4 linked regions of the Homo sapiens genome follow. The protein of the gene in region 4 interacts with the protein of the main gene of each other region in a biochemical or structural test. Each region holds a gene or a part of one and is shown on either strand. Other genes may lie near its edges.

Region 1 (3,771 bases), on a different chromosome or scaffold from region 4:
CCAGCCAACACTGGGAAATATCACTTCAAAATAATATGAAGCTTCACTGGACTTCATGGAGGATTTTCAGTATGCCTATTCTTGATGCTACAGATATACTCAATAGCAATCAATGGTGAATGTGGACAAAGGCATAATACTGCATTGTTTGTGAGAAAAAATACTGGAAACATGGAAATGTCCATCACCAGTAACTGTTTAAATAAACTAAGATACATCCATATTAAGACATATTATGCAGCCTGTAAAAGTCCTCAGGTTGTTAAAATAGTTACATAAAACAAATAAAGTGTAGAAAATATAGTATGCTTCCATTCATGTTTAAAAAAATAATAAGGGGGAGGCCAGGTGCAGTAGCTCACGCCAGAACTATGAGAAGTCGAGGTAGGAGGCCAGGAGTTTGAGACCAGCCTAGGCAGCACAGTGAGACCCCTGTCTCTACAAAAAATAAAAAATAAAAGGAAGAGATATTGACACATTTTAGAAATACAGTTTGGAAAAGAAAACACAACCAACTGGTAAGATATTTGTCTCTGTGGAGGGAGTAGAGGCACTAGGGGAGTTAAGATGGGAAGGTGTTGCTTTTCTTTATGATTCTACAAAATTTAACTTTGTATTATCCATGTACTTTTACTTTTGAAAACAGTTAATGAGGCCAGGAGCGATGGCTCACACCTGTAATCCCAGCACTTTGGGAGGCTGAGGCGGGTGGATCAACTGAGGTCAGGAGTTGGAGACCAACCTGGCCAACATGGTGAAACCCTGTCTCTACTAAAAATACAAAAATTAGCTGGGTGTGGTGGCGGGCGCCTGTAATCCCAGCTACTCAGGAGGCTGAGTCACGAGAATCACGAGGCAGAGGTTGCAATGAGCCTAGATCGTGCCACTGCACTCCAGCCTGGGCAACAGAGCCAGACTCTGTCTCAAAAAAGAAAAAAATACTAGCTAATGAAATATGTAAATAAAACCATTGTTTAAACTCCCATTCCTAACCAGGCATGGTGGCTCATGCCTTTAATCCCAGCACTTTGGAAAACCAAGGTGGGAGGATCACAGGCAACATAGCGAGACCCAAACTCTACAAAAAAAAAAAAGCCAGGCATGGTGGCACATGACTGTGGTCCCAGCTACTCAAGAGGCTGAGGCAAGAGGATCACTTGAGCCCAGAAGGTCAAGCCAGCAGTGAGCTATGATCATGTCATGGCACTCAAGCCTGGGTGGCAGTGAGACGTGTTTAAAAAAAAATTTTTTTTTTTTTTTTTGAGAGGGAGTCTTGCTCTGTCACCCAGGCTGGAGTGCAGTGGCACAATCTCGGCTCACTGCAACCTCCGCCTCCCAGGTTCAAGCAAATCTCCTGACTCAGTCTCTCAAGTAGCTGGGATTACAGGCGCCCACCACCACACCTGGCTAATTTTAGTATTTTTAGTAGAGTTGGGGTTTCACTATGTTGGCCAGGCTGGTCTCAAACTCCTGATCTCAGGTGATCCACCTGCCTCGGCCTCCCAAAGTGCTGGGATTACAGGCATGAGACACTGTGCCTGACCTAAAAAAATTTTTTATTAAAAAAATAAACTCCTACTTCTGAAATTCACTAGTGATATGAACAAAGTCACAAGGAATATACCTCCCACTCTAGCAAACAACAACAAAAGGCCAGATGAGCTAGAAAATAAAACATATGTTTAATTCATCAGAAAGCTAAGGACACAAAGAAATCTAGGTTGGGTGCAGTGGTTTATGCCTGTAACCCCAGGACTTTGGGGTGCTGAGGCAGGCAGATCGCTTGAGCTCAGAAGTTTGAGATCAGCCTGGGCAACATGGTAAAACCCTATCTCAACAAAAAATACAAAAATTAGCCGGGTGTGGTGGTACACGCCTGTAGTCCCAGCTGCTCAGGAGGCTGAGGTGGGAGGATCAACTGAGCCAGGAAGGCAGAGGTTGTAGTGAGCTGAGATCACTACAGGCTGTACTCCAGGCTGGGTAAGAGTGAGACCCTGTCTCAAAATAAAAACAAAAACCAAAGAAACCTAAATGATCCAAACTCCAGAAAGTGCCAAGTCCTTCATAGGAGAGAAGAGACCCCCTAGCTGTTGTTATTCCTAGTTGAACTATGGTAGGAAGAGGAATACTACAGGGGGGAGAAAAGAGAAACCTGCTGAAATTTAACAACATTTTCACAACCCCTTGGAGGCTGGTTTGACATTAGAACCTAGATGACCCAAATCCACAGAGGAAGGCTTCCCACCAATCTTACCCCTTAGATGATAACCAGGTACAGGAAGGTGTAGTACACTAAAGGTGTGGATAATAGAAGGAACGCTGAGAGAGCTTGACTTCTCCCAAGGGCAAAATACCCTTTAAAAATGAAAGGGGAGGCAGGATTGTTGTGAAATCCAACAGAGGCACTCTTGGAGCCTAAATGGGGTCAGAAATGCTGAGAAACCCATCCCCTAGGCATTGTGGGCATTCCTCTACAAAAGGGCAGGGCACACATGAGAGCTGAGAAAGATCCTCCTATCCCCAGCCCATTGATTAAAAAAAAAAATCCTGGCAGCAAGGTTGTAAAGTAGGGAAAGATCTCCCACATTGATAAAAGCTGGTGGCTTAGCTATGAAGCAAAGTCAGATCTCTGGAATCTTGCCAATGCCCAAAACTCAGGCCCTGGTGATATGAGAGTTCTGATTCTACGTTCCTTCAAATATTTGAAGCTAGAGGCAAACTGAATCAAACTAAAACTGCAGTGAAGCCCCAGTCTAGAATTCATATACATCAGATTGAGCCACCATTCAAGTGGCCTGAAAAAAAAACAAAGGGCATGCTCTGTTTTGGAAGTAAACATTTTCTTCAATTTCTTTTTTTTTTCAACATAAAACGTCCATCATCCAATCAAATATACAAGACGTGCAAAAGCAAGAAAATAAGATTCATGGTAAGGGAGAGGAAGGGCTCAATAGAAGCAGAACTAGAAAAGACCCAGATGTTGAATTATCAGTTTGGATCCTTAAAATAACTGATTAAAAATGAAAGAAAAAACAGAAAAAACCCAATAAAATAACTGATTAAAATGCTAAAAAGTAGAATGGAAAATGTGGAAAACATGCATGAAGAAATAGGAAATTTCAGCAGAAAATTGTAACTATACAAATATAATGAAATGCTAGAAATAAAAATATTAGAAATGAATAATTCAGTACAACTATGTATCCATAAATAACTAAAAATAAAAATTTTTAAATGGAGAATTCAATAAACAAGTTTAACAGGTTAACATTGGAAAGCATCAAAAAACTTAAAGATGGTTAAATGGAAAGTATCCAAACTGAAAACAAAAAGAAAACAGGGCAGGGGAAAAATCATCTGAGATCTGTAGGTTTATATCAAATCATCTAATATACATGTAACTAGAATCTCCAAAGAAGAGGAGAAGCAAGAGAGTATGAGACAAGAGAAAAATGTAAACGGATAACGGCCAAGAAAGAACCAATATTAATGAAAGACATCAACACAGATCCAAGAAGTTCAGTAAACTCTATACAAAGAAAAACATACCTAGACATTCCCTAGTCAATCTACTGAAAAGTAAATATAATGCACAGATGCAGCCATTGAGAACAACCACACATTACGGAAAGGAAATAAAAATTAAAATGATGAATGACTTCTCACCAGAAACAAATGAGGCCTGAGTACAATAAAATAACTTCTTTAAAGTACTGAAAGAAGAAATAAAAGGTCAACATAGAGTCCTATATCCAACTAAAATACCCCTCA
Region 2 (3,771 bases), on a different chromosome or scaffold from region 4:
CTGCAGTGAATCATGATCGCACCACTGCACTCAGCCTGGGTGACAGAGTGAGACCCTGCCTCAAAAAAAAAAAAGAAAAGAAGAGGGAGCTACAGAAATCAAGATTCTGTGGTACTGGAGGAGGGATAGGTACACAGATTAATGAAATAAGCCCCCACAAATATGTCCAACTGCTTTTTGATAAAGGTACAAAAGCAATGTAATAGAAAATGAAAGATCACCTTTCCAACAAATGATGCTGGAGTAAAGACATGTATAAGCAAAAAAAAAAAAAAAAAAAAGAGGACCTTGACCCAAATCTATTAAAATTAACTAAAAATGGATCATGACCCTAAATACACATTTTCAAACTGTAAAAACTTTTGGGAAAAAAAGAGAACATCTTCAGGATCTGAGACCAAAGATTTCTTAGACACCAACAGTTTGACCATAAAAGAAAAAAATGGATGCACTGGATTTCTTTCTTTCTTTTTTGAGACAGGGTCTCACTTTGTCACCCAGGCTGGAGTGTAGTGGCAAGATCACAGCTCACTGCAGCCTCAACCTCCTGGGCTTGTTATCCTACCACCTCACTTCTCCACCCTACTCCCCAGTAGCTGGGACTAAAGGTGCACGCCACCACACCCAGCTAATTTATAAATTTTTTGTAGAGATGAGGTCTCACTATGTTGCCCAGGCCGGTCTTGAACTCCTGGGCTCAAGTGATTCTCCCACCTCAGAAAGTGGATTTCATCAAAATTGAAAACATGTGCTCTGTGAATAACTCTGTTAAGGGAATAAGAAGAAAAGCTCAGCCTGAGCAACATGGCAAAGCCCCATCTCTACAAAAAATATAAAAATTAGCCAGGTGTGGTGGCACATGCCACAGTCCCAGCAACTTGGGAGGCTGAGATGGGAGATCACCTAAGCCGGGAGAGGTCAAGGCTGCAGTGAGCCATGACTATGCTACTGCACGCCATCATGGGTGACAGAGTGATACCCTGTCTCCAAAAAGAAATAAAGAAAAGCTACAGATGGGGAGAAAATATTTGCAGACCATATGTTTAACAAAGGACTAGCATATAGAATATATACAGAACTCTCAAAAGTCAACAGTAAAAAGCCAAAATGGGCCGGGCACGGTGGTTCATGCCTGTAATCCTAGCACTTTGGGAGGCCAAGGTGGATGGATCACCCGAGGTCAGGAGTTTGAGACCAGCCTGTCTAACAGGGCAAAACCCCATCTCTACTAAAAACACAAAAAACTAGCCAGGCATGATAGCAGATGCCTGTAATCCCAGCTACTTGGGAGGCTGAGGCAGGAGAATTGCTTGAACATGGGAGGCGGAGGTCGCAGTGAGCTGAGATTGTGCCATTGCACTCTAGCTTGGGCGTCAGAACGAGACTCCATCTCAAAAAAAAGAAAATAATAATAAATAAATAAATAAATAATAATAATCCCATTAGATAATGGGCAAAAGGGCCAGGTGTGGTGGCTCACGCCTGTAATCCCAGCACTTTTTGGGGCCAAGGGGGTGGATCACTTGAGCTCAGGATTTCGAGACCTGCCTGGCCAACATGGCAAAACTCTGTCTCTACAAAATATACAAAAATTAGCCAGGCGTGGTGGTGCCTGCCTGTAATCCCAGCTACTCAGGAGGCTGACACAGGAGAATTGCCAGAACCTGGGAAGAGGAGGTTGGTTGCAGTGAGTCAAGGTAGCACCACTGTACACCAGCCTGGGCAAGAGCAAGGATGTCTAAAAAAAAAAGAAAAAAAGAAAGAAAGAAAAGAAAAGAAAAGAGAAAAGAAAAGAAAAGAAAATGGACAAAAGACACGAAGAGACATTTCACCAAAGGATACATAGATGACAGACAGGCACATGAAAAGATGTTCAATAGCATTAACTATTTAAGAAATGCAAATTAAAAGCACAATGAGATACCACTACACACTTATCACAATGGCTAAAATAAAAAATAATGACAGCATTAAATGTTAGCAAGGATGTGAAGAAACTGGATTATTCATACATTGCTGGTGGGAATGTAAAATGCTACAGCCACTCTGGAAAAGAATTTGGCAATTTAAAAGAAACTAAGCATACAACTCCAATACATCTCAGCAACTGCATACTAGAGAAATGAAAATTTATGTTCACATAAAAACCTGTAAGTGAATATTTATAGCAGCTTTATTCATCATAGCCCCCAAATGGAAACAACCCAGATGACCTTTAACAGATGAATAGTTAAACAAACTGGTACATTCAGACCACAGAATATACGTAGAGAATCCCTAATCCAAAAACCAGAAATCCAAAATGCTCCAAAATCCAAAACATTTTGGGTACCTACATGATACTCAAAGGAAATGCTCACTGAAGCATTTAGGGTTTCAGATTTTTGGCCTAGGGTGCTGAAGTGGTAAGTAAGTATATTGCCAATATTCCAAAACCCCCAAAAATCCAAAATCCAAGACACTTCTAGGCAGACATAGTGGCTCATGCCTGTAATCCCAGCACCTTGGGAGGCCAAGGCAGGAGGATTGCTTGAGGCCAGGAGTTAGAAACCAGCTTGGTTAACATAATGAGACTGTCTCTACAAAACAAAAAATCAAAAAATTAACCGAGCGTGGTGGTGCACACTTGTAGTCCCAGCTACTTGGGAGGCTGAGGTGGAAGGATTGCTTGGGCCCAACAGGTCAAGGCTACAGTGAGCCATGATCCTGCCACTGCATTCCAGCCTAGGTGACAGAGCAAGGCCCTGTCTCAAAAACAACAAAACATTCCTATACCACGTTTGGAGAGAAAAAAACCACAAAACCACACATCTGGTCCCAAGCATTTTGGATGAAGAATACTCAACCTGTACTACTCAGCAGTAAAAAGGAACCAACTACTGATACACTCAGTAACCTGGATGAATCTCCAGAAAATTATGCTGAGTGAGGAAAAGTCAACCCCAACAGGTTATATACTATATGATTCTAGTTATATAATATTCTTCAAATGACAAAATTATAGAAATGGGGAATAGATTCGTGGGTTGCCAGGGGTTAAGAACAGGTTGGGGATGGGGGGCAGGTACGGTGGCTCATGCCTGTAATCCCAGCACTTTGGGAGGCTGAGGCGAGCGGATCATGAGGTCAGGAGATCGAGACCATCCTGGCCAACATGGTGAAATCTTGTCTCTACTAAAAATACAAAAATTAGCTGGGCGTGGTGGCACGTGCCTGTAATCCCAGCTACTCAGCGTGAGGCAGGAGAATCCACTGAACCAGGGAGTTGGAGGTTGCAGTGAGCCAAGATGGCACCACTACACTCCAGCCTGGCGACAGGGCGAGACGCCATCAAAAAAAAAAAGAAAAAAAAAAAAAGAAAGAAACAGGTTGGGGGGGATAGGTGTGGCTGTAAAAGGGCAACATAAGGGATCCTTGTGATGATGGAAATGTTCTGTACCTTGACTGTATCAATGTCAATAACCTGGCTGTTATACTGTACTAGTAGTTTTGGAAAATGTTACCATTGCAGGAAACTGGGAAAAGGGTACACCAGATCTCTGCATTATTTCTTACAAATGCATATGAATATACAATTATCAAAAAATAAAAAGTTTAATTTTTTTAAAAAGGCTGGTACATGTAAGGGTATGAGCTGTTCTCCACTGGTGGCAAAGAGGTGGGTGATGATAATTCATATGAAAAGGAGTATCTGAGTGAGGCACTTAAGCAAAGGAGAGGATACATGGAAAGAGAGACGGCTTGAGAGCCACTTTGTCCAGAGCCTTACTC
Region 3 (3,771 bases), on a different chromosome or scaffold from region 4:
ACCTCTAAACCCTGTATACAAAATGCCTATCACAACAATGTGCACAAGAGCACTACATTCACTTGACACTTGGCCAAAATCACTTTGTAAGGATGTTCATTAAATAGAAAAATAATAAAAAGGGAATTTCAGACTGCATCTTTATGGAACAAAGATAGCAATGCTCAAAGGAATGTGTGCCTTCTGTAAATTTTTAAAATCGTTTGAAAGTACAATGATGTGTTAGGAAGCAAAATTTTAAAAAAGGAGAAACTAGGAGCTAGGCTAAATGAGATGATTTTACATGATCATTCACATGTAAGAAATTAGGTGCTCTACAAATTCCTTGGTAAGTAAGCTGTTTTTTTAACAGCTGTATTTAAATAAATGTTAAGGCATTTTATCAAAGTGAACGTAGAATAATATTTGTTCAATATAAAAATACATTTTCATTCTCTCTAGAATGTATTTAGAAGCAAAAGAAACATGATTATTTTAAAACATTAATTAAATTGCTGTTTCTTTTTTACATATTTAAATGACTTGTTTTAAAGGAACATAGGACATCATTTTATATATATTATATATACATAAAATAACAAATAAAAATAACAAAGTGCTGTCTTTGTTCCATAAAGAACCAAGGAATTTATATATATATAAATATATACATTATATTTATATATATAATCTACATTTTTATATAATCTACATTATATGTGTGTATATATATATAATCTACATTATGTGTGTGTGTGTATATATATATATATATATATATATATATATATATATATGAAAAATCTACAAGATTACCAAAGAGGATAACAGAGACATACAAAAAAGTAGTCTTTTTCTATTCCTTTGGAAAACAACAAACCCACATAAAAGAGAGCATTCAAGTTCAAGCCACAATACTGTAATCACACACCATCACTACACTAACATAATCAAGCAATTCTAATCACCCATCATATCCCCAGCACCAAAGTAAAATACTCTGAGCTCCTTACCTTTGTGAGAACTGCTGTGTGTTCTTCTCCACAACTAATATAGACAACTTTTTGCGTGCGTAAGAGTTTTACATGGCATGGAGATTCTCGATCTAGAATAAATTAAATATCAGAATATCACTACCATTTGCCTTTGAGATGAAATATACACAACTATCTTGGCATGAATTTTGGATTCCTGGATTCCTGACGCATGTTCAGTTTCCTGCCTGCATCTGTACTTGGATATCCAACAGACTTCTCAGTTTTAATTTACCTAAAACCTACCTCATGGTTTCCCTACACTCTCCAACCCTGCCCACTCTCCAGCTCACTTTACTACACACGGTTTTCCCCATTTCAGAAACAGTCATTTTGCCCTTCCAGCTGTTCCTTTATTTCAAACCACACATCCAACAGTGAACAAAACCAACTGGCCTCATCTTCAAAATATGTTTAAAATCTGACTTTACTCCCACAACCTCCAAGCTGGTCTTCCAGCTTCCCCCTTGACCCACTACAGCCAAAGCCAAAGTGGATCACGCTTCTCCTCCAAACCCTCAGGGTCTTCCCCTCTCACTGAGAAAACCAGTTATATCCTCACCCTGCCCCTCAGGGCCCTGCATAACTGGGTCTACACGACTTCTCTGACCTGCAGCTGTGCTACTCTTCCCCTTCTCTCCAACTACATCTCTTCCCACATGAGCACCTTTGCACACCCAGTTCTCTCTGACAGGAACATTTTTCACCCAGACATTTACATGTCCCATCTCCCACCTGATTTCCTACAGGTTCTGCTCAAACATTTTCTTATCAGAGGGGCCCTTCCCCACCACCTTATGTAAAGCAGGAAGCTGCACTCTCAAATCCTGTGTATTTACTGGTTTTGTTGCACCTCTACTCACTAGAATACAGTCTCCACTAAGACGAGGATGTTCTCTATTGTGTTCACTGCTTCTCCCTTAGTATCTCACATGGGGCTAGCACATAGTAGATCCTCAAGAAGCATGTGTTAAATGAATGTGCTTTTAAACTAAATACATACATATGAAGGGTTTACCTACCTTTTTCATCACTGAGCCCTAGCTGCCCGGCATTATTCATCCCCCAGCCAAAAACAGCTCCTGAGAGAGACAGGGCAAAGCTGTGAGCCCCTCCGGCAGCCACCTGAGCCAGTGGGATCCCCTCCAGGGACCTCACCCTCTGTGGGCTGGCTTGGGAGGGGAACTCCTTCCCTAAGCCAAGCTGCCCATGGCTGTTCTTTCCCCAGGTGAAGAACTGGCCATCTGAAATAACAGGATAACTGGTATTACCATAAAATGATACAAGCTCCACACACAAAAATAATCTAGTTATTAGGGTCATTTGCCAGTTGCCCCCCAACACCAAACCCACCCAAGAGCAAAGGAACAGAGATACTTCATGCTATCAGACTGCCAAAACCAAAACTCCCAAGTGATATAACAGAGAGGTAAGCTGAGTCTTACTGCCCTTCAAAGGCTATTAAAATTTATACACAGAAAATATTAAATGTATAAGTAAATTCAATTTCGGACAGGCCAATTACCAGGCTTAAGCAAGATCACACTAGTTCTGACCACACTAAGACTATGAGACCCAAGACTTCGGGAGGTCCAGCAATGACCACTTGGTCTGCTCTGCAGATAATCAAGCAGGACACAGAAGTGCAGATTTATTTAGGTTTCTCCAACTCCTTCTTTTTCATTCATTTGGGAGCTTGATAGTGGAATGTAGCTTGAGAGTTGGCTGTCGCTAAGAAAAATCAATCTCCTCCATGCTCAGAACACCTAGGTATGGTCCTGCCCCCTGCTTATCTTCCCCTGTGAAAGTTGGAGCAGCAATGATGACCACCTACTTCATCACCCACACCCTGAGAAAAGGATGAGCTATGCAAAGCCCATATGAGAATTGTCACTGTCCAACAGCAATGCATAGACCCTAACCAGTTAATTCAAAGTTTTCAGTTAGATAATATCACACAAAAAGACAAAGAGAAATGTTTTCAAAATTAACATAGCATTAGCATATGTTTAATGTTACTTTACCAGCCGCAAGAGCCAAGCAATGCCAGTTGCCACAGGAAACTTGTAATATTGTTTGCTGGTTCAGCTTTTGTATTAACCTAAAACAGAAAAGGCTTTCTTTTTCAGATAGATATTCACACACAAACACAATTATCAGAAATATTCCCAATTAAATAAAATGTCAGTAATAAATAACACCATCTTGCCTAAAAGTCTTTTTAAGGCCAGGCACAGTGGTTCACGCCTGTAATCTCAGCACTTTGGGAGGCCAAGGTGGGCTTATCACCTGAGGTCAGGAGTTCGAGACCAGCCTGGCCAATATGATGAAACCCCATCTCTACTAAAAATACAAAAAAAATCAGCCGGGCGTTGTGGCACATGCCTGTAATCCCAGCTACTCGGGAGGCTGAGGCAGAGAATTGCTTCAACAATTCCCCATCACCATTACTCTTGTCACAATCAGTTGTAGAAAAGAAGCAGGTCAGAAGAACAAAGACAGATAATAGAGAAATTGTACCCTTGAGGTGGGGAAGAGGGAGTCCATACAGTGCAAGCACATACTGTATTTTACCTACTTGTCTCCTTCTATCCTCCCCATAACCCTGTAAGGTACATAGTAAGTAATTTTTAAGTTAGGAAACTGAGGCTTAGAAAAGTTAACCTGCCCAAGGTCATTCACCTTACAAGTAAAAGAGCCAGTATTGGAATCCAAGGCTTGTTTGACATCAAAGCTATGTTACTTTCCACAATACAAA
Region 4 (2,681 bases):
TTACACACACTGACATCAGGGCTTGCCCAATTAACTGATGTTACTGTGGTAACATCAGCTGGAGTTTCACACAAGAACTGAGGAGAAGGACTGGAGGAGGGGTGTGGCTGTTTGTTTTTAAATTTTTTAAAAGGATGTTATAAACTGGAGTCAGGAGAATTTAAACCAACTCCCACACTGGGCAACAGTGCCACACATGCTAAGAAAAGCCACCAGGACCGCCAGGGCAGTCTCTTCTCCTTTGTGGAGGCGAGCCCGGGGTCTGGGGAAGTAAGTAAGTGAAAAATAAACTCGGTGCCAGAAAGTGGGAGTGGCAAGGGTAGGGAAGAAAGGGAACCACAACCGTTTTTTTTCCTTTTTTTTAAACCTTATGGGTTAAATGTAACTTGAAGATTTTGGATAAAATTGGACAAGAAAAGAAACACCATTCTTTTGAAGTAGATTGAAGCAGTGATTTTTAAAACAAAGAGAGCAGAACTAGAACATCTTAAATTTTTAATCCTTTCTTTACAGGTTACCTAGACCACTTTTGATTAAGAAAACTGTAGAAAGTTAGTAACTGCCACAAGCGAACGCCAGGCGGTGGCACGTGTCAATTTCCACAGAGTCCTGCTTTGCGGGGTGTCTGAATGCACTGCACGGGGTCTCTGCTCACACTTGCTGGAACCAATCGTGGCAGATTTTAGTCCACAGGTCGCTTTTCCCCATATTTCTTTGTAAACTCTTCAGCATTCTTACAGAATTTTTTACGGTCCTTAGAGTATTCTTCAGCTAGGTCAGCCCGAAGCGGGTGCTCAGGCTGGGGGTCATTCACCAGTGCTATGAGGGACTGGATTACTGCCAAGAGAAGGACAAGGCATGGGGGGTTAACACAGTCTCAGAAATGGCACAGGCAAGAGGCAGCTAATCCGGGAACAAAACTCTGGCTTTACAACTGATTTACAGCTAATGTGCTTTTAAGCCAAAGCTGCCTCCTATTTATCCAAAATTCTGACTGCCAGAAAACTCATCTTTCCTCTGTGATTAGAAGACACTGATGGACAACAAATAGCTAACACTACAGTGGATAATTGTTCACAGTGATGTGCTTCCGCCTCCAGGAAGCCTTCCTGACCTAACACCTGGGGAGGTCTTAGCCCTCAGTCACTCCCAGCCCTTTTTTCTTGGCGGGGGGTTGGGGAGGAGGGACAGGGTCTCACTCTGTCACCTAGGCTGCAGTGCAGTGGCACCATCTTGGCTCACTGCAGCCTCAACCTCCTGGGTTGACCTCAAGCAATCCTCCAGCCTCAGTCCCCCAAGTAGCCAGGACTACAGTCGTGCACCACCATGCCCGGCTAATCCAGTCCTCTTGTGTACTCTGGAGATAGGAGGCCTAGTATTGAACTGACTGCTCACTCTCATGCATGCACACAGGGTCACTTTCTTCAGGGCAGGACCGGGTAGAACTTCCCTGCATCAGCCCAGCACCCAGCACCATGCTCGGCTCAGGGAAGTTTCGGTTAAGGTGACTGAGTGGGCACTAGAGAGAAGGGTATGTGATGGCGCTGCACTTGTCAATGCGCAATGACCCAACTCTGGAAGACCCTTAGGAGTTTCTGAACCCTCTAGAAAGGGTCACTGGGGCCAGCCAATGGGAAGCTGACAACCGCCATCGCATCACATTGTCAAGACCACAGGCAGATGTCACGCTGATGGCTCTGATGGGTGCCACAGTACTCCCCCTAGGTGCCGTAGCCCAGACGTGCCCCAGGGTGGAAGGATAGTGGGGAATCAGAAGCAGCTGCTACCCACACCTCCTCACATACTTTGCCACAGTTGCCCCCTGACCCTGTCAGGACCAGCACCCTCAGAATGTTCCTTCCCACTGTAAAACAGTGCCCCTCTTCTCCGAACTGCTGATGCCACAAATTCCTTCTTATTTTTTTTAGACAGTCTTGCTGTCACTCAGACTGGAGTGCAGTGGCTCAATCATACTTTACTGCACGGTACCCTCAAACTCCTGGGTGTAAATGATCCTCCTGCCTCAGCTTCCTGAGTAGCTGAGACTACAAGCACATGCCATCACGTCCAGCTAATTTTTTTTTTTAACCTAGGCTAGAGTACAGTGGTGCAATCACAGCTCACTGCAGTCTTATCTCCTGGGCTCAAACAATCCTCCCACCTTGGCCTTGAGAGTAGTTGGGATTACGGGTGTTAGCCACTGCTCCTGGCCTAGTTTTTTGTAGAGATGGGGTCTCACTATGTTGCCCAGGCTGGTCTCAAACTCCTGGGCTTGAGTGATCCTACCGCCTCATCCTCCCAAAAGTGCTAGGATGACAGGCATGAAGCCACTGCACCTGGTCAATTCCTTTATTAAGGGCTCATATTGTTCATTCAGCATTACAAGAAATGGATTAAAATGCAAATGCTAGCCAGGCAGATCACCTGAGGTCAGGAGCTCAAGACCAGCCTGGGCAACATGGTGAAACCCCGTCTCTACTAAAAATACAAAAATTAGCCAGGCATGGTGGCCCATGCCTAGAGTCCCAGCTACTCAGGAGGCTGAGGCAGGAGAATCGCTTGAACCCGGGAGACGGCAGTTGCAGTGAGCCGAGATCGTGCCACTGCACTCTAGCTTGGGCAACAGAGCGAGACTCTGTCTCAAAAGTAAATAAATAAAACAAAATGCTGATGCTGGCTGA

The links.
Region 1: the proteins of UBE2L3 (region 4) and ARIH1 form a complex in vitro, tested with the Homo sapiens proteins (18 studies listed by BioGRID and IntAct, with this or other methods).
Region 2: the proteins of UBE2L3 (region 4) and AREL1 form a complex in vitro, tested with the Homo sapiens proteins (4 studies listed by BioGRID).
Region 3: the proteins of UBE2L3 (region 4) and HERC3 form a complex in vitro, tested with the Homo sapiens proteins (3 studies listed by BioGRID).

Annotation. Positions count from the first base shown.
Region 1 is NC_000015.10:72,596,205-72,599,975, reverse strand, and holds part of ARIH1 (E3 ubiquitin-protein ligase ARIH1), read right to left. Parts: 3' UTR 1-3,771. UniProt on the Homo sapiens protein: E3 ubiquitin-protein ligase, which catalyzes ubiquitination of target proteins together with ubiquitin-conjugating enzyme E2 UBE2L3.
Region 2 is NC_000014.9:74,678,435-74,682,205, forward strand, and holds part of AREL1 (apoptosis-resistant E3 ubiquitin protein ligase 1), read right to left. Parts: intron 1-3,771. UniProt on the Homo sapiens protein: E3 ubiquitin-protein ligase that catalyzes 'Lys-11'- or 'Lys-33'-linked polyubiquitin chains, with some preference for 'Lys-33' linkages.
Region 3 is NC_000004.12:88,651,355-88,655,125, reverse strand, and holds part of HERC3 (probable E3 ubiquitin-protein ligase HERC3), read right to left. Parts: intron 3,115-3,771; coding exon 3,038-3,114; intron 2,258-3,037; coding exon 2,036-2,257; intron 1,085-2,035; coding exon 993-1,084; intron 1-992. UniProt on the Homo sapiens protein: E3 ubiquitin-protein ligase which accepts ubiquitin from an E2 ubiquitin-conjugating enzyme in the form of a thioester and then directly transfers the ubiquitin to targeted substrates.
Region 4 is NC_000022.11:21,619,671-21,622,351, reverse strand, and holds part of UBE2L3 (ubiquitin-conjugating enzyme E2 L3), read right to left. Parts: intron 838-2,681; coding exon 683-837; 3' UTR 1-682. UniProt on the Homo sapiens protein: Ubiquitin-conjugating enzyme E2 that specifically acts with HECT-type and RBR family E3 ubiquitin-protein ligases.